2 linked regions of the Homo sapiens genome follow. The protein of the gene in region 1 purifies or fractionates together with the protein of each later gene. This does not show direct contact. Each region holds a gene or a part of one and is shown on either strand. Other genes may lie near its edges.

Region 1 (5,048 bases):
AATAGTGTTCTTATTAAATAAAAAAAATTTAGAGTCAGAAGACTTAAGTGATTGTGAGAGCCAAGTTTTGAATCAGTTCTACGTGAGTCGAAAGACTGGGCTCTTAGCCTTTATGCTGAGCACCACTGCCATGAGAAGGAAAAATCAAATAAAATCAGACAATATATATTAATGTGCTTAGTCTAGTACAAAACTTGGTATGTAGCAGGGGCTCAACAGGTACCTAAATAAAGATGTCAGGTAAACTGACATTAAAAAAAAAAATCATTATTGCTTTTGAGACTAGCATCCTGAGAAAAGTACAAGGCTTTTTATTCTTAATATGGAGTAAATATATTTCAAGCAGTCAATGTGTAGAAAGAAACCTTTGAACAACAACAAAAACATTCTGAAAGACACTATGTTAGGATTTGTATAGAATTACATGGCATATTTTTGGCATTTATAAAGGCAGGCTAAAAGTTTGGGAGTAACCACATTGCCTAAGTCCACATAAACGACTTTCATTCTGACCCAGTATTTAATACATCTGAAAAGTTTTTTAATTGAAAATCCTCTGTTATTTACTATCTATTTGAACAATCATTTTGACTACTTTGGATAAGAAAGGAACAAAGCTATGGTTATTTTTTCACACTTTCAGCAAAGGGTGTGCAAAGCACTATGGAAAATGCAAGGTGCTAAAAATCTACAGGGTTAATGAGATAAGTTTTAGACTATTTTAGCATATTGATTTAACATTTAAGGGTATTGACTCTCCTATTTTCTTAATATGTGGATATACTCTGTATTTGACCTCAAAAGAGCCAAAGAGGTTTCAAGTTTTTGAGCTATTCAGTGGTCTTCTTGGCTTTTGGGGACTTATCATGAGTAATCACTTGACACATGATCAAAATGATCAAAACCTTCCTAAAGATCATTCATGTCAATCACATACAAGTGTGCTTATTATTTTAAGGTTTTGCAAGGCTAGGATAAATGTTTTTGAGCTTATAATTGATTTATTCTTCATAGAAACTCCAGGTAATTAGATTTTTGCCTCATCCTTCTTTTAGCTTTTCTGGGTCATAGTCTAGATCGTATGTCTTCCTATCTGATCCACGTCTTGTTCAGAAATAGCAGCAAAGCACAACCAGCCAACACTGTTCTTCTCCTCCCCTAAATAGGAAGCTCAAAAGGAATGGATGTCTATTCTCATTTGGCTTGCCCCTATAATCTGACCTTTGAAAGTGCTGGTTAATCCTAGCACTGACCCGCTGATATGCCATTTTCAAGGGCCTGAATATGTTACATATAAGCATAGGCTGATATAATATATTAAATTATATATATATATGTGTATGTGTGTATATATATATATACTTGTTTTAAAAAATGAAAAAAGTATTTACCTGATATATATTGTATTAGCCTATGCCAATATATAATGATATATATATGTATATCTCAGTTAACTAATACAATTAACATATAGCTAACTGATATAAAATCTATGTTACAATTTTATTTATATATACAGTGCTGTCTGAACTAAGTCAGTATACTTAGAATGAAGGTTAAGCCATTGCACTCATATTTTTTTCTGTAGGATACCCAATTTAACTAAAGTTGCAGAGAATGACCCTCCATGTAAATATTTTACTTACTTCACCTAAATTTGGCTGCACTTCTTAAATAATATCATTATCATTTAATGGTATTAAGTTAATACCATTATTTAGAGATAAGAAAATTGAAGCCGATAATTATTCAAAACGCTGCCCAAGATTATATACCAATACTTTGTTGTAGAACTTAGATTTGAAGCCATGTCAGTCTAGACCCAAAGCAAATTCCCTATGTTCTCCATCATCTCCTATACAATTTTTTCAGCTAAGTCAGAATTTTTTAAACTAATCTAATTAGTATCTGAAGACCAATCTGTGTGTGTGAATTTATCCACAATTTTATTTAAAAATATAACTAATGAATGAAATAAATCAACCCATCTGCTGGTTGATTTATAATTACTTTTTGCAAAATACCATTGCTTTTACTCAAGCATTCTCAATTAATTGGAGCTACAGGACCAAAATGACCACACAGTTTCATTAACATCAGTTGGCTTCCTCACTCTGCCCCCGAGAACTGGCTTTATTAATAGCCTGTCGGTATCATATTTGTCCTAGATTATGAAAATGGACGCACACCTCCAGCAGCCTTTGTTGAGAAGTATAACACCTCTCAGAGTTCCCAAAGGCTACCCTGGAATGTTTGATCAGCTCTAGAGAGAAGAGCTCTGTCTAAAGCAGCCATTCTTCTCGGGGATGGAGGAAACAGTTTCCTTAGAAACAGGAATTACAAAAGAGCTCTTAGAATAGCTACTCCTAAACTGAGGTTTTCTTCAGTCCCAGGTCTCAGATAGTCTTTCAAGTAGAGATAGAATATGAATAGCGAGCCCAGCTGGACTTATGTAATGACATGAAGAGAGATAGCAAGACCATTGCCAGCACAGACAATGTATTCAGGACTTAGCAAAGGGCTTGGCACAGAGATGGCATTGAGCAGATACTCACTAAATACTTGAATGGATATATGATTTACCTGAATTTGAATGGCATAGTAAAGATAATTAAACAGAAATCAAAGAATCTTTGTCTAAACTTGATTTTGTCGTGCATTACTAGCGTGGCTTTAAGCAATTTAAATGCTTTCTCTAGTTTCTGTTTCCCCATCATTTCAATAGAAATGACGATTGTTGTTCAACAGGTCAAACAACAAAGGTTGTTCATGAATATGAGAGTAGTTTCTAAATTTCGAGTTCCTATATAAAGATAGAGTAGTATTTTTGTGTTCATTTTATCCTCATAGAAAATCTCAAAATGATTATATTCCCATAGCTCTGAACAAATGTCTGTGGAAGTTAGCATGCTGTATTCTAATTGGTAACTTACTTTCACGTTTACACCACCAAGCTGTGAGCATTTTGAGGACAGAAACCATGTTTTTATTTCTGCATCTCACATAAAGTTCTGCACATTGTGTTCAACAAATACTTGTTAAATTAATAGATTGGATGGACAAAATATAAGAGTGTTTTCAGATTTTCTTTTTACAATCCTCATATCTTGTAGCTGGACAAGAGTTCTAAGAGCATTGAAGAATAATTAGATTGGAAATTTGTAAGTAGAATTCTATTTGAATGGAATACTTTTTTTGTTTGTTACATTGTCTGTGAGCTGAGACTTAAAGGGAGTTATGTTTATTTACAGGGAAAAGATTACACCGCTGCTCGCTCCAACTGGGCTCTAAGTTCCATGAAGGCAGAAACTAGGTTTGTTTTGCCTGTATTCTCAGTACCAGAGAGCAATTCTAGCAGACAACAGAATACAGTAGACAATGAAACATTTTACTTTGCTTCTATTTCCTAGCAGTTATTTGTTTAATGAATAAATGAATAATCTCTGAAAATTAGAAGATAAAAATTTTTGCAAATGAATTTAGTATTCACTTAAATACACAGGTAATCCACAATTTATATAAGAATACATTTTACATACCTTGCTAATTTCAAATCCAAAGACTTCCTCAAAATATGCTGGCTGACTAATAAGCAATAAATAAAAAGTCCAGCTTCTGCAGAAGTTTGCAACAATTATTGCATAGACTGGCATGGATGTAAAAAACTTCCTCCATGGAGTCTTGAATTTCTGAAATTCCAAAAAGAGAGACATTATGACCATTTTAAATATTTTCAAACCTAAGTGGGAATAATAGGTGCTTTGCATTTTCAGGATGTATATGACAGGTCATAAGTAGGAAGTAGGAAGATGTAGTGAAGCATTAATTATAACCACCCAGTTAACCTTAGCTACGTAAATAATCATTGGAAGAGAAAAAAAATAAGATCTCAATCACTGCAACTTATTAGATTGTTCCAGCTTTAGGAATATGCAGGATTACATAATTATAGAAAATTGATTCCAAAAGCATAGGTCCTAGTTTCTTAAGGTTTTTTTTTCCATTTGTTTTATTTTTTTAATGGTGATAGACCATATCTCAGCAAAAACTCACTGCCACATCAGTGAGCTTGTGATATCCAAAACATTTCATTTAAAACGTTGAAAATCCAATGTATTCATGAAAAGAAAGATACAAAATCTTAAGAGTACAGTATTCTAGACCCTACCTGAAGTCAATTATTCTACTACCAATCAATCTAAGTCAATTATTCTACTATCAATCAATCATAAATTATCTTGATAGCTAGTAGCTATAACTATAAATTCTGTGACACTGGAGTTCAAGGTTCTATAAAACTCAGAACAGCTGGGTGAAAGCATTTGTCTACCCCCAGCGTACCTTTGGCACATAATTAGTTACTTAAAATATTCAAAGCATTCAACATTAACAACCTAAATATGATCAGCTTTGCATATGACCCCTTTAAAAAATTAAACCTAATTGTACTTAAAGTTTCAGTGTATGCCAAAATGTAAGCAAGTACATATTCTCCCCCAAGACTAATATTTTTAGCCATTAAAATATCTCTCATATTCCCTAATTATTTCTCAATTACTTTATTCTGAACACCAAAATACTGCTTGGTGAGGAAACAGTAGCCTAAAATAACTTTGTTAAAAGTTAACTTGGGATCCTTGACCTAACTAAATTACTGAAAGAGGAAGCAAACACCTTTCACGTGGATTTAACAATTATTCCTGAATGGAAAACCTCATAATTGCTAGTATTGGTTGTGGCTGTAATTAAGCCTTTTAAAGATCACTTTAAATGCAACACAGTAGGAAGTTATGATGTGGTGATCATAAATATATGCAAGACAAAAAAAGAAACAAACAAAAACAAAAATCTGTCCTAATACTATGTAATGAATTCTGTGGCTTTGGATAAAAAATTTTAGTGGCAGTGTCATAAATGGGTTCCAAAAGTACAGTTTTTAAAAAGAAATCAATATGTTCTGGGAAAATAATTCCAGATGCGTACACTTATTTCAAAGATAATAAAAATGTCAGAAGACAGAAATGTCTGCATTATAGTATTATGTTAGC
Region 2 (4,274 bases), on another chromosome or scaffold:
CACATTTACATGTTCACATCTCCTTTCCTACAACCCTTTTTCTTTTTCAGAAAAGTGAAACTTTTTTCTAATTCATATTTCAACAGTCCTCCTTCCAGTGCTGTTTCTCTATAGAGTGACTGTCATTTGCCCCTCCTTTCCTGTGCTCTAGAGCTTATGATACATGGCTTTAGTATAAACATCCCTCATACATCACTGGCTGGTGCTCCACATATCTTTATTCCTCCTTGCCAAAAGCAGCAGGCGATGACAAGGATCAAAGAAGCATCCTCCTTCTTGCCAAAAAAAAAAAAATCTTCCTTTGGGTGGAAGTGGCTGTGGTGAGTGTTGTTGACCCAATAACGGACCAAATAAAATGCCAGTAACTTCTTAGCAGTGTTATCAGATGTTCTTTTTTATTGTATATATATAATTCTCCAACTGTGTAGTTCTTTCAAGTGTAATTTTTTTTCTTTTTCTTTTTTTTTTTTTTTGAGATGGAGTCTTGCTCTGTCGCCCAGGCTGGAGTACAATGGCATAATCTCGGCTCACTGCAACCTCCACCTTCGGGGTTCAAGCAATTCTCCTGCCTTAGCCTCCCGAGTAGCTGGGATTACAGCCACACACCGCCATGCCTGGCTAATTTTTGTATGTTTAGTAGAGATGGGGTTTCACCATGTTGCCCAGGCTGCTCTCGAACTCCTGACCTCGTGATCTACCCCCCTTGGCCTCCCAAAGTGCTGGGATTACAGGCGTGAGCCACTGCGCCTGGCCTCAAGTATAATTTTATCTGTGTATCCACGTTTATAGGGAGAGAACAAAAGTATAGAGGGAGTAGTGACTTTGCCAGCAAGCATCTTCTTCCCCATTGGGAGTAATTCCATTTTTGTTTTTTGGTTTTGTTTTGTTTTTACTAGTTCCTGTATGCCCACATTGCCAACTTCTGTCATTACTGCCTACTACAAAGACAGTATTTACTTCCATCTCTTTTCATTCCCAAATTTAGGGTCTGAATTGTTGCTTGTATAGATTATTACTTCCACTGTCTACCTATATGGGTGACCTAGAACTCTTTCTTAATAGAAAATAAATGTACAATATCTGAATCTCTGAATATAACCTTTCTTGTCTTTTAGTTCTCATGCTGGCACTATACTTTTCTTTGACCTCATAAAAACATTCAAAATTTTTTATTCACCCTCCCACCTCCTACCTCAGGCTATTAGTCTTTCCTGTCCACCTTCCCAAACTAACCATGATCCCATTTTGATCACTTGAATTCTTTCCTCTATATCATGATTTCTTCACGTAGGTATTATGAGAGTCATCTGGCTAGATGTGGAGATGTATATTTCTGGGCTTAAACTACTCCCCTTTTAAAAATCTTTATAACATTTCAACAATATACATAGGAAAGAATAAATAATGAGCCCTGAATTCCCTTCTCCACTCATTGCCAAGATTCAATTACTACAGACTAATTTTATTTATCCTCAACATCTCCTTTCATTCCTGTATTATTTTGAGGCAAAAACTAGGTATTATATCATTTTATCAGTAAGTATTTTAGAATGTATTTTTAGGAGATAAGAGCTCTTTAAAAATATATTTCCCTAATATAATTGTTATATTAGCTGTAATTCCTTAAAGTCATCAAATATCATGTCACTGTTTTTAAAACAGCTTTATTGAGATGTAATTTATACCATACAACTCACTCATTTAAATTATACAATTAACAGGGTTTTTGTTTATTCATAGAGTTGTGCATTTATCACCACAGTTTAAGAGCCACGTACCTTTTAGTGATCACCCCAAATCCCCTGTTCCCTCCCCAGCCCTATGCAACCACTAATCTGCTAATCCACTTTCTGACTGTTTAGTAATTTTTGAATCATACAACGTATAGTTTTGTGTGACTGGCTTCTTTAACATGTTTTCAGAGTTGATCTGTGTTACAGCATATATCAGCCCTTTATTCCTTTTTATTACCAAATAATATTCTGTTGTGTAGATATACCACACTTTGTTTATCCATTCATCAGTTGATGGACATTTGGGTTGTTTATATTTCTTAAGCTATTAAAAATAATACTGCTGCAAACATTCACATACACTTTTTTTGTGGTTATCTGGTTTCATTTGTCTTGGTTGTATACCTTGGAGTGTAACTTAAGTAATAAATATATATTATACTATACTGTATATATATAGATGTATATATACATATATAATATAAATTATATATATTATATATAATATGCTGTGTACTATAATATATTTTGAAAAATTGCTCAAGTTCATTATTAAAAAGAGATTTAGGAATGACAGTTCCTGCAATATATGTGACTTAGGAAGACAGCTTACCTATTGTGCTTTTGATGTCTTGGATAGTTTGAATGCCTATCAGTTTTGTGGAAGTATTTTCTTCATTTAAGAACACTTCGTATGTCCTTACAAGCAGTACATATTAGTTATCCTTTGGTTTTTAGTGTTCTTTGACAGTAAATTTGATTCCTGATTTCTTTTTAAGGAAAAATAGCACAAATACAAATAGAGTCTAAAAGCATTACTATAAAAAAAAAAAAGCCGGAAGATAACTTACGAATGCCATGTTGCATTTCTGCCACTTTCCTCTCCTAAAGTTGGTTCCTGCTGCCTATCATGCTATTAATTTTTTAATCTCAGTTCTTCATAGAATGTACAGAATTCCTTATTGACACTCTTGGTGTTATTGTGACATATAGCTATTCAATATTGTCAGTTTTTTTAAACAGTCATGTTGGGTCTTGGAATGTTACAGATTAGCTGAGAGTAACATGGTGGGAAAAAGGCATGACATCACCAAGCCAGCAAATGCCTGGAGGTGGATTATTTAGTTTGCATAAAATGTTTTAAATGTTTAATTATGTATTGTAGACTAAACATTACTAATTATAGGTGATAGTTTACTTATACCTCTAACATTGGTACAGTGTTTTTGTTTTTTTAAAAACATTCATCTTCCTTATAGAGATTTCTGTTTGTTTTTAAGGATATTTTGGAACTCTTAGAAAAAAGAGTGAAGTCAAGATTTTCTCACCGGCAGATACACTTAATGAATTCATTTGGTTTTCCACAGTATGTTAAAATATTTAAAGAACAGTTATCTCTACCTGCAGAGTTTCCAGACAAGGTTTTTGCTGAGAAGTGGAATGAAAATGTTCAGGTATCTTAAAAGGCAATAAAGCTAAATGTTCCTTGCTATATGATTTAAAGCAATTAAAACACAAATTTTAGAAATTAGTAAATTAACACAAAGTTTCTAATATTGCTGAAGGATAATGCTGCAGTAATACAAATTATATACTTTTTAAAAATTTTCTTCTTAGACAGTTGAAATGTCATTTCTCCTAAATTCTATCTCAAAAGAACATCACAGTTAAGCTTTAGGATTTATGTTATTAGTTTGAAGTAAACTTTAATGAGGCTTTAGTTTTATCTGTATGTGGTTTATATTTTAGATAATTTTATTTTATATATTTTACATATTTAGCAATAATAATAAATAGTAAATAATGATAAATAAATGTTAATGACTCATACCTATTATGTGTGGATATTTTTTTTCTTCCAGTTTTCATTAGCAACTTCAGCTTTTATTTTGTTGGGCCTTAAGAGGCAGTACAGACTGTGGCACCTCCAGTTATATTATCTAATAGGTGATCACATCTCACAGTCCCTGGAGACTTGAGAGTCTTAGATACAAAGGCAGGTTCATATGTTGTTTTAAAGATTTGCCACACCTTTGAGACTATAAATTTACCTGTGCTTAAAATATTCTCAACACACTAGCATTTTAATCTTACGCTGTCAAAAAGTTTCAGTTGGCAAAGAGAAAGGAGGAAGTATGCATATGTGTGTGTATTTAATAATATAATTGAAAAACATCATTAATGAATAAGTCCCTTATGCTAGAATCTCAAAAAATATTGGCCTCGTGAGAGTGGAAAATAATATAGAGTCCCTGGCTCTGAAGGAATTGGGAAAAACTGATTTATAATGTTAAAATACCGGTAAGGATAATTAGATCTTTGAATAGAATTACACAGTCTATATTCACTGACTCTATAAAAAGGATCATTTTATTTTAAAGCAATAGTGGTAGATTGTATTTTTACCGTGAATTTTTAAATACTAATACTAAATTGGAAGCGTTTTGCATTTAGTTTGTTCTTTAAATGATTATTGTTTGATTATAAAATATAGTCTGCTCATGTAAGCAGTATTTTGACACATTTCATTTTTTTAAAATA

What was found. The genes of interacting proteins can lie anywhere in the genome.
Region 2: the proteins of SLC17A6 (region 1) and ORC4 purify together in Homo sapiens (affinity purification with mass spectrometry; one large-scale study listed by BioGRID and IntAct). This does not show direct contact.

What each region holds. Positions count from the first base shown.
Region 1 is NC_000011.10:22,368,680-22,373,727, reverse strand, and holds part of SLC17A6 (vesicular glutamate transporter 2), read right to left. Parts: intron 3,690-5,048; coding exon 3,540-3,689; intron 1-3,539. UniProt on the Homo sapiens protein: Multifunctional transporter that transports L-glutamate as well as multiple ions such as chloride, proton, potassium, sodium and phosphate.
Region 2 is NC_000002.12:147,946,964-147,951,237, reverse strand, and holds part of ORC4 (origin recognition complex subunit 4), read left to right. Parts: intron 1-3,013; coding exon 3,014-3,187; intron 3,188-4,274. UniProt on the Homo sapiens protein: Component of the origin recognition complex (ORC) that binds origins of replication. DNA-binding is ATP-dependent. The specific DNA sequences that define origins of replication have not been identified yet.